Linked DNA regions of Homo sapiens. The protein of the gene in region 2 interacts with the protein of the main gene of each other region in a pairwise test. Each region holds a gene or a part of one and is shown on either strand. Other genes may lie near its edges. The genes, in order: CDK11B, MSN and MYBPC2.

What was found.
Region 1: the proteins of MSN (region 2) and CDK11B interact in a two-hybrid assay, tested with the Homo sapiens proteins (one large-scale study listed by BioGRID and IntAct).
Region 3: the proteins of MSN (region 2) and MYBPC2 interact in a two-hybrid assay, tested with the Homo sapiens proteins (one large-scale study listed by BioGRID and IntAct).

What each region holds. Positions count from the first base shown.
Region 1 is NC_000001.11:1,634,904-1,638,550, reverse strand, and holds the end of CDK11B (cyclin-dependent kinase 11B), read left to right. Parts: coding exon 1-51; intron 52-667; coding exon 668-789; intron 790-1,037; coding exon 1,038-1,143; intron 1,144-1,348; coding exon 1,349-1,470; intron 1,471-1,546; coding exon 1,547-1,654; intron 1,655-1,697; coding exon of another isoform or gene 1,698-1,752; coding exon 1,753-1,869; intron 1,870-2,069; coding exon 2,070-2,218; intron 2,219-2,424; coding exon 2,425-2,614; intron 2,615-2,694; coding exon 2,695-2,787; 3' UTR 2,788-3,326; downstream 3,327-3,647. UniProt on the Homo sapiens protein: Plays multiple roles in cell cycle progression, cytokinesis and apoptosis. Involved in pre-mRNA splicing in a kinase activity-dependent manner. Isoform 7 may act as a negative regulator of normal cell cycle progression.
Region 2 is NC_000023.11:65,712,647-65,716,293, forward strand, and holds part of MSN (moesin), read left to right. Parts: intron 1-3,647. UniProt on the Homo sapiens protein: Ezrin-radixin-moesin (ERM) family protein that connects the actin cytoskeleton to the plasma membrane and thereby regulates the structure and function of specific domains of the cell cortex.
Region 3 is NC_000019.10:50,456,870-50,460,516, reverse strand, and holds part of MYBPC2 (myosin-binding protein C, fast-type), read right to left. Parts: intron 1,931-3,647; coding exon 1,763-1,930; intron 1,600-1,762; coding exon 1,511-1,599; intron 1,407-1,510; coding exon 1,211-1,406; intron 478-1,210; coding exon 338-477; intron 1-337. UniProt on the Homo sapiens protein: Thick filament-associated protein located in the crossbridge region of vertebrate striated muscle a bands. In vitro it binds MHC, F-actin and native thin filaments, and modifies the activity of actin-activated myosin ATPase.

The DNA.
Region 1 (3,647 bases), on a different chromosome or scaffold from region 2:
TCGAGGAGGGCACCTATGGAGTGGTCTACAGAGCAAAAGACAAGAAAACAGGTGGGTGGGGTCCCCTCACCCCACAAAGGCAGGGGAAGTGGGGCAGGGGCTGGCTGCCCGAGAGCTGCGACTGCACCTGGGCCCGCCTCACCTGAGCAGCTACTGGAGGTTGGACCCCTCAGCACCTCTAGAAGCCAGAGGTCAGCCTGGCCCTGGGGCTTTGCCACTCCCTTGCAGTAGCAGGCGGCCTGCCCCACAGGGCCGAGGCCCAGCGCGTGGAGTGGTCTGTGCCGGGGCTGGTGTGCAGGTTTGCGTTCCCAGCGTCCCACCCAAGCAGGTGTGTGAGCCGGGAACTCTGTTGGGAGTCGGCCACTGGGATCCCAGGTGAGGCCGGCTCTGTTGGGGAAGTCGATGTGGAGTCGGCGTGGCCGCTGGGATCCCAGGTGGCTGTAGGTGGCTGTGAGTGTCTGTGGTGTGTTGAGTGGGAAGCCGTGGGTGTTGCCCAGACCTCAGCTGGGGCGTTCTCCTGGTGCCCACGTGCCCCCACCTAGAACGAGACCCCCCTCCGTGAAATGCTGGCGCTTTGGGCACTGCCTGCGGTCCTCACTGAACGAGTCCACTGTTGGTACCGTGACTTTGAGAATGCCTCTCAGTGCCGTCTGTATTTTCTTCACAGATGAAATTGTGGCTCTAAAGCGGCTGAAGATGGAGAAGGAGAAGGAGGGCTTCCCGATCACGTCGCTGAGGGAGATCAACACCATCCTCAAGGCCCAGCATCCCAACATCGTCACCGTTAGAGTGAGCATGGCCCCACCACGCCTGGCCCCGGGTGGAAGGCTTTTCTGACAGGGCCCCGTGCTGTCCTGGGGCCGGGTGCTTCCTACACTCTCCTGCACTTAGTGGAGCCCTTCACAGACCACACAGAAGCAAGCATTTGCCTCCCGGGTGGCACCGGAGGTCCTTACTGTCCCTCAGCAGCTGCACCCGGGTGCAGGGGTGGGTGGGGGCCTGGAGGTGCCCAGCACCCACAGAGCCGTGCCCTGCAGGAGATTGTGGTGGGCAGCAACATGGACAAGATCTACATCGTGATGAACTATGTGGAGCACGACCTCAAGAGCCTGATGGAGACCATGAAACAGCCCTTCCTGCCAGGTACAGCCGCGCCCCAGGGGCCTGTCTGCGTACAAGTGGGGGCAGGGTCCTGGTCACCCCCGCGGTGACAGTGCTGCAGGGAGGGCCAGCTGCATCCACAGGGAAAGCCCTGAGAAGCCTCTGTTGCTGCCGAGGCGAGTGGGCCACCCTGAGTGCCCTGGGCTGGGGGCAGCCAGGTCCACATGGGAGCTTCCCTCCCTCCCAGGGGAGGTGAAGACCCTGATGATCCAGCTGCTGCGTGGGGTGAAACACCTGCACGACAACTGGATCCTGCACCGTGACCTCAAGACGTCCAACCTGCTGCTGAGCCACGCCGGCATCCTCAAGGTGAGCCCCCCTCCGAGTGGCCCATCCCAGGGAGACCTGCCGGGGCCCACTCACAGCCGCCCATCTGTCGTTGCAGGTGGGTGACTTCGGGCTGGCGCGGGAGTACGGATCCCCTCTGAAGGCCTACACCCCGGTCGTGGTGACCCTGTGGTACCGCGCCCCAGAGCTGCTGCTTGGTGCCAAGGTGAGTCCTGGGCGTCTGAGTGCCTCCCCTGTCCCCCACGCAGCCTCCCACAGCTTCGCGGGCACTGGCCCTCCTGAACACCTCTCCTGACCTCTTAGGAATACTCCACGGCCGTGGACATGTGGTCAGTGGGTTGCATCTTCGGGGAGCTGCTGACTCAGAAGCCTCTGTTCCCCGGGAAGTCAGAAATCGATCAGATCAACAAGGTGTTCAAGGTGGGTCTGGCCCTGCTGCAGGTGCGCTGTGGGGTTGTGGAGGAGTTGCAGGAATGGGGCTGCGGGGCGCACAGGTGCTGGGTTGAGATGGGGACCAGGGCCACTGAGAGCCCTCCTGGTGGCTTGTCTTCTCTGACGGGACACAGGTGCCAACACTGTGGGCCACTTGGTGTGGCTGTTGAAGCACCTCTGTCTTTCAGGATCTGGGGACCCCTAGTGAGAAAATCTGGCCCGGCTACAGCGAGCTCCCAGCAGTCAAGAAGATGACCTTCAGCGAGCACCCCTACAACAACCTCCGCAAGCGCTTCGGGGCTCTGCTCTCAGACCAGGGCTTCGACCTCATGAACAAGTGAGCCCAGTGCAGCCGGGTGGCGGGAGGTCCCGAGCCATAGCGGTGACTTCCCAGTCCCAGGCCTACCTGCTGGCTCACCACGTTCCAGAACTGCTCTGGTGCCTGGCGTCCCATGCCCTGAGCCCCGTCCCAACACAGCCCATCTTTGGGGGACCCAGTGGAGCACACGAGCACCTCCTGGGCCTCTGGCCCTCTCCCCCCAGGTTCCTGACCTACTTCCCCGGGAGGAGGATCAGCGCTGAGGACGGCCTCAAGCATGAGTATTTCCGCGAGACCCCCCTCCCCATCGACCCCTCCATGTTCCCCACGTGGCCCGCCAAGAGCGAGCAGCAGCGTGTGAAGCGGGGCACCAGCCCGAGGCCCCCTGAGGGAGGCCTGGGCTACAGCCAGCTGGTGAGGGGCCTGGCGGGTGGGGCGTGCCCACAGGTGGGGCTGGCTTGGGCAGGGTTCTCACGGTAGCCGACTCGTCCCAGGGTGACGACGACCTGAAGGAGACGGGCTTCCACCTTACCACCACGAACCAGGGGGCCTCTGCCGCGGGCCCCGGCTTCAGCCTCAAGTTCTGAAGGTCAGAGTGGACCCCGTCATGGGGAGAACTCAGCCGGGACCACAGGCGTGGCTACTGCGGCTGGAGCTGCGATGAGACTCGGAACTCCTCGTCTTACTTTGTGCTCCATGTTTTGTTTTTGTATTTTGGTTTGTAAATTTGTAGAATTAAATCATTTTCCTTGTTGTGGAGGAAAGAGCTGTGTTTTCTCCGTGACTTGCCCAGGGCGGAGAGGGTGGACATCTTCGGGTGCCCACGTGGGGCAGCACAAACCTCCACACACCCTCTCCCACTCTCGACACGCACGGGGCTGGCTGGGCCGTGATTTGGAAAGGAACTGGTGGGAGCCGGGTGGATTGTTTAATCTTCGGAGCTGGAGACCTGTTTCTGTGTTGGGATGAGCGATGCCCTCTTGCCCCAACCCACTCGTCCAGACCAGCCCTGTCCACACAGGCCCCCGGCCCCCAACCCCCAGCCCCAGCTGTGCCAGCAGACTCGACAGGTTTTTATACAAGGTTGTTGAGTTTTAAAATGTATTAAAATATTCTTCGAGGAAAGCTCCCCGTGTCGTCCTTTGAGTGACCCGGGACCATGTGTGGGAGGGGAGTCGCAGACCACCGGGCTCTAGGGGAAGAGGGTGGGGTGGGCGGCTGTGGCCTCTGACCCCATGTGGGCCAGTGTCTTCCCCAGGCAGGAGGGGAGCTCCTACCTCCTGGGGGGCCTCCACTCTGGCAAGGTGGTCCCCCACCCTGTGCCAGTCCTCCCAGCCCCCACCCACATCTCCTTGCAGAAGATCCTGGAGGCCCATCCCAGCCACATCTTTCAGGAAGCCCCCTTTGCCTCCCTCCCCCAGCTCTGAGCAAGTCCTAGACAGAACCC
Region 2 (3,647 bases):
CCTTCTATGTATACATTTTACAAAGTTGAGCTCACGGACTCTATGAAATACTGTTTACATTTCCTCAATATTACTAAAGTGTCTTCCGTGAGCATGAAATAGTCTTCATAAAGATTTTGTATGACCATATAAGAAGCCATTTTGTGGCTGTACTATATACATTATTTAAGCAAAATATCTAACAACTAAAAATCAATCTTTTTTTTCTTTTAATGGGAGACTTTTGTACTCTGTAAGAGGAATTTAGCATATTGGTTTACATTGTGAGGTTTGGATTTAGACCTGGATTCAAACCCTGTCTCCCCTGCTTAATAGCAATGTGACTTTAGACAAATACCTATTTCTTTATCTCCAATGTGGAGATAATACTCTACTTCACAGGGTGATTATTGATATTAAATGAGGTAGTACATATGAAGTGCCTGGTGAGTAGCAAGTCTTGATACAGGAAAGCTGCTGCCTGTTACTATTACTACTGCTACCATTACTACTGAGTTTTCAGCCAAAGGACTAAATCTCTAATTATGAAATTTCAGCTATCATTGACCTAGCTTCGAGGATCTATTTGTAAAGGTGGTATTTTTTCTAGTGCCCGTGAAATCATGTGTGTGGCTGTCTCTTATTTTGGTCTGGGCCTGTTTCTGCACCTTTGTCCTCCCACTGAGTTGGCTTTGGTAGCCCCTCTATGCCACCCATACCCACCTCTACTGAGGCCCCCTTCCCCTCTTGAGCCTAAGGAAGCCAATGAGACATAAATATAGGAAGCATTAGCAATGCAAGGCAGTATATAGAACCACCGACATCAGCACTGAAATGGTCTTTGGACCATTTATCTAGTTTAATTGGCTGCCCTCCATCCCATTCCTGCCTTTGCACAGGTAAGGGAAACTAAGGCCCAGGAAAAGGACAGGAGTTATCCAAGGTTGTAGATTTGACCAGCTACATGCTAGGCTTGGAATCCAGTGTTCTTCTTTGTTTTTAATTTTTATTTTAAGTTCAGGGGTACATGTGCAGGTTTGTCATAAGGTAAACTCATGTCATGGGGGTTCATTGTACAGATCATTTTATCACCCAGGTATTAAGCCTAGTACCCATTAGTTATTAAAATATTTTTTCCTGATCATCTCCCTCCTCCCACCCTCCACCTTCTATGTGTCTGTGTGTTCTCATCATTTAATTCCCACTTATAAGTGAGAACATGTGGTATTCTACAACCTCTGCCTCCCGGGTTAAAGCGATTCTCGTGCCTCAGCCACCAAAGTAGCTGGGATTACAGGTGTGCACCACCTTGCCTGGCTAATTTTTGTGTTTTTAGTAGAGATGGGGTTTCGCTATATTGTCCAGGCTGGTCTTGAACTCCTGGCCTCAAGGGATGCGTCCATCTTGGCCTCCCAAAGTGCTGGGATTACAGGTGTGAGCTACCATGCCCAGTCTGGCATTTGATTTTCTGTTCCTGCATTAGTTTGCTAAGGATAATGACCTCCACTCCATTCATGTTCCTGCAAAGGACATGATCTTGTTGTTTTTTATGGCTGCATACTAACATACATTTTCTTTATCCAGTCTACCATTGACTGGCATTTAGGTTGATTCCATGTCATTGCTATTGTGAATAGTGCTTCAATGCACATGCGCGTTTATGTATTTTTATGATAGAATGATTTATATTCCTTTGGATATATACCCCATAATGATATTGCTGGGTTGAATGGTAGTTTTGTTTTCAGGTCTTTGAGAAATTGCCACACTGTTTTCTACCATGGTTGAACTAATTTACACTCCCACCAACAGTGTATAAAGGTTCCCTTTTCTTTGCAATCTCACTAGCATCTGTTATTATTTTTTTTTGATTTTTTAATAATAGCTATTCTGACTTGTGTGAGATGGTATCTCATTGTGGTTTTGATTTGCATTTCTCTAATGATGTAAATTTTTTATATATGCTTCTTGGCCACATGTATGTCTTCTTTTGAAAAGTGTCTCTTCATATCCTTTGCTCACATTTTAATGGGGTTGTTTTTTTTCTTGTAAATTTGTTAAAGTTCCTTATAGATGCTGGATATTAGACCTTTGTAAGTTGCATAGTTTGCAAATATTTTCTCTGGTTCCGTAGGTTGCCTGTTAACTCGATAGTTTCTTTTGCTGTGCAGAAGCTCTTTAGTTTAGTTAGATCTCATTTGTCAATTTTTGCTTTTGTTGCAATTGCTTTTGGCGTCTTTGTTATGAAATCTTTGTCCATTCCTATGTTCAGAATGGTATTACGTAGGTTTTCTTTGAGGGTTTTTATAATTTTGAGTTTTACATTACTTTTACATTTAAGTCTTTAATACATATAGAGTTGATTTTTATATGTGAGATAAGGATGGGGTCCAGTTTCAATCTTCTACATATGGCTAACCAGTTATCCCAGCACTGTTTATTGAATTGGGAGTCCTTTTTCCATTGCTTGTTTTTGTCGACTTTGTCAAAGATCAGATGGTTGTAGGTGTGTGGCCTTATTTCTGGGCTCTCTATTCTGCTCCATTGGTCTCTGTGTCTGTTTTTGTACCAGTACAATGCTGTTTTGGTTACTGGAGCCCTCTAGTATCATTTGAAGTTGGGTAGCATGATGCCTCCAGCTTTGTTCTTTTTGCTTAGGATTGCCATGGTTATTCAGGCTGTTTTTTTGTTTCCATATGAATTTTAAAATAGTTTTTCCTAGTTCTGTGAAGAATGTCATTGGTAGTTTGATAGGAATAGCATTGAGTCTATTCTATGAATTGCTTTGGGCAGTATCACCATTTTAACAATATTGATTCTTCCTATTCATGAGCATGGACTGTTTCTCCATTTGTTTGTGTCATATCTGATTTCTTTGAGCAGTGATTTGTAGTTCTTCTTGTAGAGATCTTTCGCTTCCCTAGTTAACAGTATTCCTAGATATTTATTCTTTTGTGGCAGTTCTGAATGGGATTGCCTTCCTGATTTGGCTCTTGGCTTGACTGTTGTTGGTGTATACGAATGCTAGTGACTTTTGTATGTTGATTTTTGTACACTGAGACTTTGCTGAAGTTATTTATCAGATTAAGGAGCTTTTGGGCCGAGACTATTGGATTTTCTAGATATAGGATCATGTCATCTGCAAACAAGGATAGTTTGACTTCCTCTCCTCTTGCTTGGTTGCCCTCTATTTCTTTCTCTGGTCTGATTGCTCTGGCCAGGACTTCTAATACTATGTTGAATATGAGTGGTGAGAGAGGGCATTCTTGTCTTGTGTCGGTTTTAAAAGGGAATGCTTCCAGCTTTGGCGCATTCAGTATGATGTTGGTTGTGGCTTTATCAGATGGCTCTTATTATTTTGAGGTATGCTCCTTCAATACCTAGTTTATTGAGAACTTTTAACATGAAGGGGTGTTAGATTTTATTGAAAGCTTTTTCTGCCCTTTAGATTATCATGTGGAACCCAGTGCTCTTTGTCCTGATATTAATTTGCCTCTGCAATTGTTTACCAGTGCTATAGATAATCCAGGTAGATCAGAGGTGAGAAGAGAACCCTGTGAGATGAAGCTGTCTAGTATAGATGGAAAGGCCTTCCTGGAAGAAGTACAGTTATCATTTGCCTGCTCTTAGTTGTAGGCTGATCTGCATTCTTTTTTAAAAATTTTTTT
Region 3 (3,647 bases), on a different chromosome or scaffold from region 2:
GGGGGTAGCGCTATTGGGTACAGGGCTTCCTCTGGGGGATGAAAATGGACTGGGTAGAGGCGGTGGCTGCACAACCCTGCAGATGTCCTAAGTGCTGCTGAATTGTTCGCTTTAAAACGATGAATGACTAATTCCGTTATGTGACGTTTACCTCAGTGAAAAAAGAAAATGAAAACCCATCACGTGCCAAGTCTCAGCTAAAAGGCTTCCCTCCTGGCCCCAGCCCGTCCTCTAGCCTCTGGGCCCCTCCCTGCCCTTCCAGCTGTGAACGGGGGACATCTGCACCTGCTCTGCCCACCTCACCGGCTCTTCCCCATCTCCCCCTCTGCTCTCTCACCATGGTTTTTTTGTCTGCTTTCTGGACGAAATACCCCATGATCTCACTGTTCCCATCATCTTTGGGGGCCTGCCACTCCACCAGCGCGTTCGTGCCCCACACCTCCTTCACCATCACGTTTATGGGGGGCCCAGCCTTTTCTGGAAATGGGGAAGTGTGACAAGTCAGTCCAGGTTTTGGGATGTCCAGCCGCTTCCCTCCCCTCCCCTCTCCACACCCCCTCCCTCCTGATTCTAACCTCTCTTATGCCCCATTCCCATTCCTGCCTATGGCCTCCCCCATCCCAGTCTCTCCACTTCCTCTTATCCTGGGCCACCCTCATCCCTCCTCACCTCCTCTCCTCACCCCCATGTCTCCCCACTTCCTCTCTTCACCCAATCTCCCTCTCAAGGGTTCCCCCATCTTCATCTCTCCTCCACTCCTAGCCCTGGTACTTGCCTTGCTCCTTATCTAGTCTCCCCCACCTCATCTTTTCACCTCCTCTCCCCCTCCCCTCCTCATCTCCTCACCTCCTCTCCCATCCCTCATCTCTCACCTCCTCTCCCACCCCTCGTCTCACCTCCTCTCCTACCCCCCATCTCTCACCTCCTCTCCCACCATCTCTCACCTCCTCTCCCACCATCTCTCACCTCCTCTCCCACCCCCCCATCTCTCACCTCCTCTCCCACCCCCATCTCACCTCCTCTCCCACCCCTCATCTCTCACCTCCTCTCCCACCCCCCATCTCTCACCTCCTCTCCCATCCCTCATCTCACCTCCTCTCCCACCCTTCATCTCCCACCTCCTTCCCCACCCCTCATCTCTTACCTCCTCCCCCATCGCTGCCCATCCCTGCCCCTCCCGGCCTCCAGGGGCCCTCCCCAGCGCGCGCACCCACAACGCGGATGCGGATGGTGGCGGTGTCCTTCATGTTCTCGATCTGCACGCTCAGCTCGTACTCCCCGGAGTCGGAGCGGGCCGCCTGGCGCACGAAGAACACGGTGTCGAAGTCGCTGGTCCGCACGTGCACGCGGGAGGTGTCCAGCGGGGCCCCGCCCTTGGTCCACACCACCTGGGGCCGGGGCTTTCCCTGCGGGGAGAGGGCGGGGCGGGGTGGGGTCAGCGGGGCTCCACCCGCAAAAAGGGGGCTTGCGGCGAGAGCGGACCCCCGGCCCGTGACCCCGCTCCCCTGACCTGGAAGGGGACGACAAGGTTGAGCTGCTCGCCCACTTTGCGGATGTAGGTCTGGCGGAGATGGCGGGGAAGCCGGATCTTGGGTGGCTCTGAGGGCGCAAACACAGGGAGGGGGCTCAGCGGGGGGCCGGGGCGCATTCCAGGGGCCAATGGTGATAAGGCTCTCTGGGGAGGTCCTGTCGACGACACGGAAAGGGCAGGCGGGACGACGCCAGCTTGGTCTTTCGGAGCGCAGGGTCAGGGGCCACGCACCCGCAATCTCCCTGATGGTGACCGGCTGGGCCAGGGTGGCCGGCTCGCTGCGCCCCGCGATGTTGACCCCAACTACTCGGAAGAGGATTCTGGCTCCGGTCGGGAGATTCTTGACGGTGAAGCCACAGCGCTCCACGGGCTCGGTGTTGGCAGGGACCCATTCCTCGGCTGGAGAGAGAGGCCCTGCTGGCGGATCTCGTGCCCTCCTCCCATCCTCCGCTCCCGTTTCTCCCGGGGACTTGGGCCCCACGCAGCGAGCGAGTGAGCACTGAGTAAGTTCCCAGTAGAAGCAGCAGCAGCAGCTGGAGTTAGTTAAGCATTCATCATGGCCAGGTTCTAAGGGTGGCCATTCTGTTCGCTCATTAATTTTTTTTTTTTTTAAACGGAGTCTCGCCCTGTCGCCCAGGCTGGAGTGCAGTGGGACGAATTCTTTTTTTTTTTTTTTTAGGTGGAGTCTCGCCCTGTCGCCCAGGCTGCAGGGCAATGGCAAGATCTTGGCTCACTGCAACCTCCGCCTCCCAGGTTCAAGTAATTCTCCTGCCTCAGCCTCCTGAGTAGCTGGGACTACAGGCTCGCACCACCACGCCCAGCTAATTTTTGTATTTTTAATAGAGATGGGGTTTCACCATGTTGGCCAGGATGCTCTTGAACTCCTGACCTCGTGATCCGCCCACCTCGGCCTCCCAAAGTGCTGGGATTATAGGCGTTGTTCATTAATTCTTACCTCAACCCTGTGCTATCCCCATGTTAAGGATGGGAAACCATCCCTAACATGCTTGTAATCCCGTGGCTCATGCTTGTAATCCCAGCACTTCGGGAGGCTGAGGTGGGCAGATCACTTGAGTCCAGGAGTTCAAGACCAGCCTGGCCAACATGGCGAAACCCTGTCTCTATTAAAAACACAATACTTAGCCGGGCAAGGTGGCAGGCACCTGTAATCCCAGCTACTCAGGAGGCTGAGGCAGGAGAATCGCTTGAACCTGGGAGGCAGAGGTTGCAGTGAGCCGAGATCACCCCACTGCATTCCAGCCTGGGCGACAGACCAAGACTCCATCAAAAAAAAAAAAAAAAAAACTTTCCCCAGGTACCATGGCTCATGCCTGTAATCCCAGCACTTTGGGAAGCCAAGGCAGGAGGATCTCTCAAGCCCAGGAATTCAAGACCATCCTGGACACGCAGCTCAGGCTCTGTGGACTAGGATGTTAAACCCAGGCCTGTCTGACTCCAGCACGCTCTCAAGCTCTGCTCTCCTGCAAGGCTGGCACAGAGGGGCAGGGATCTTGGCTCTGTCTGAGGGCGCAGCCAGGTGGGTGTCTGGGAAGGCGGGCTGAGGGCAGGGTCAGAGCTCTTCAGATTGCCTGCTTTTCGTTACATGCCCTTCTGTCTTGGGTTTATGGCCATGGGCTGGGGAACTCATGGCTGTTGGCTCAGAGCAGCAATCAACAGAGTGAACTCTAACAAGCTGGGTTCTGAAACGTCAGGGTGGGAGCAGCCGGCCAGGGAGGAATGGGGTAAAGAGCACGGAGGAGAGGAGGAGGGAGGAAGCTGATGAGGGTTCAACCATCCCTCCTTTCCATGCATTCTCGAGTACATCGTCACTGTACCCTGTCAAGATGAGAACTGTCTTCGCCATGGTTAGATGAAGAGACTGAGGCTCAGAGACTTGCCCAAGGACACACAGTTAGACAGTGGAGGGGCAAGGTTGGAACCCGCATCTGTCTGACTTTAAGACCTGGGATAGTGTGTCGAGGTGATCACGTCTGTTCTCCCAGAGAGATGGCTGCGTCTGAGACATCTCCATAGCCATGGCACTGGGCCGGGCACAAGTCAGTGCTCAGTGAATGTTTGTTTGGTGGAGGATGGAGAGTGGATGTATGGAGGTACA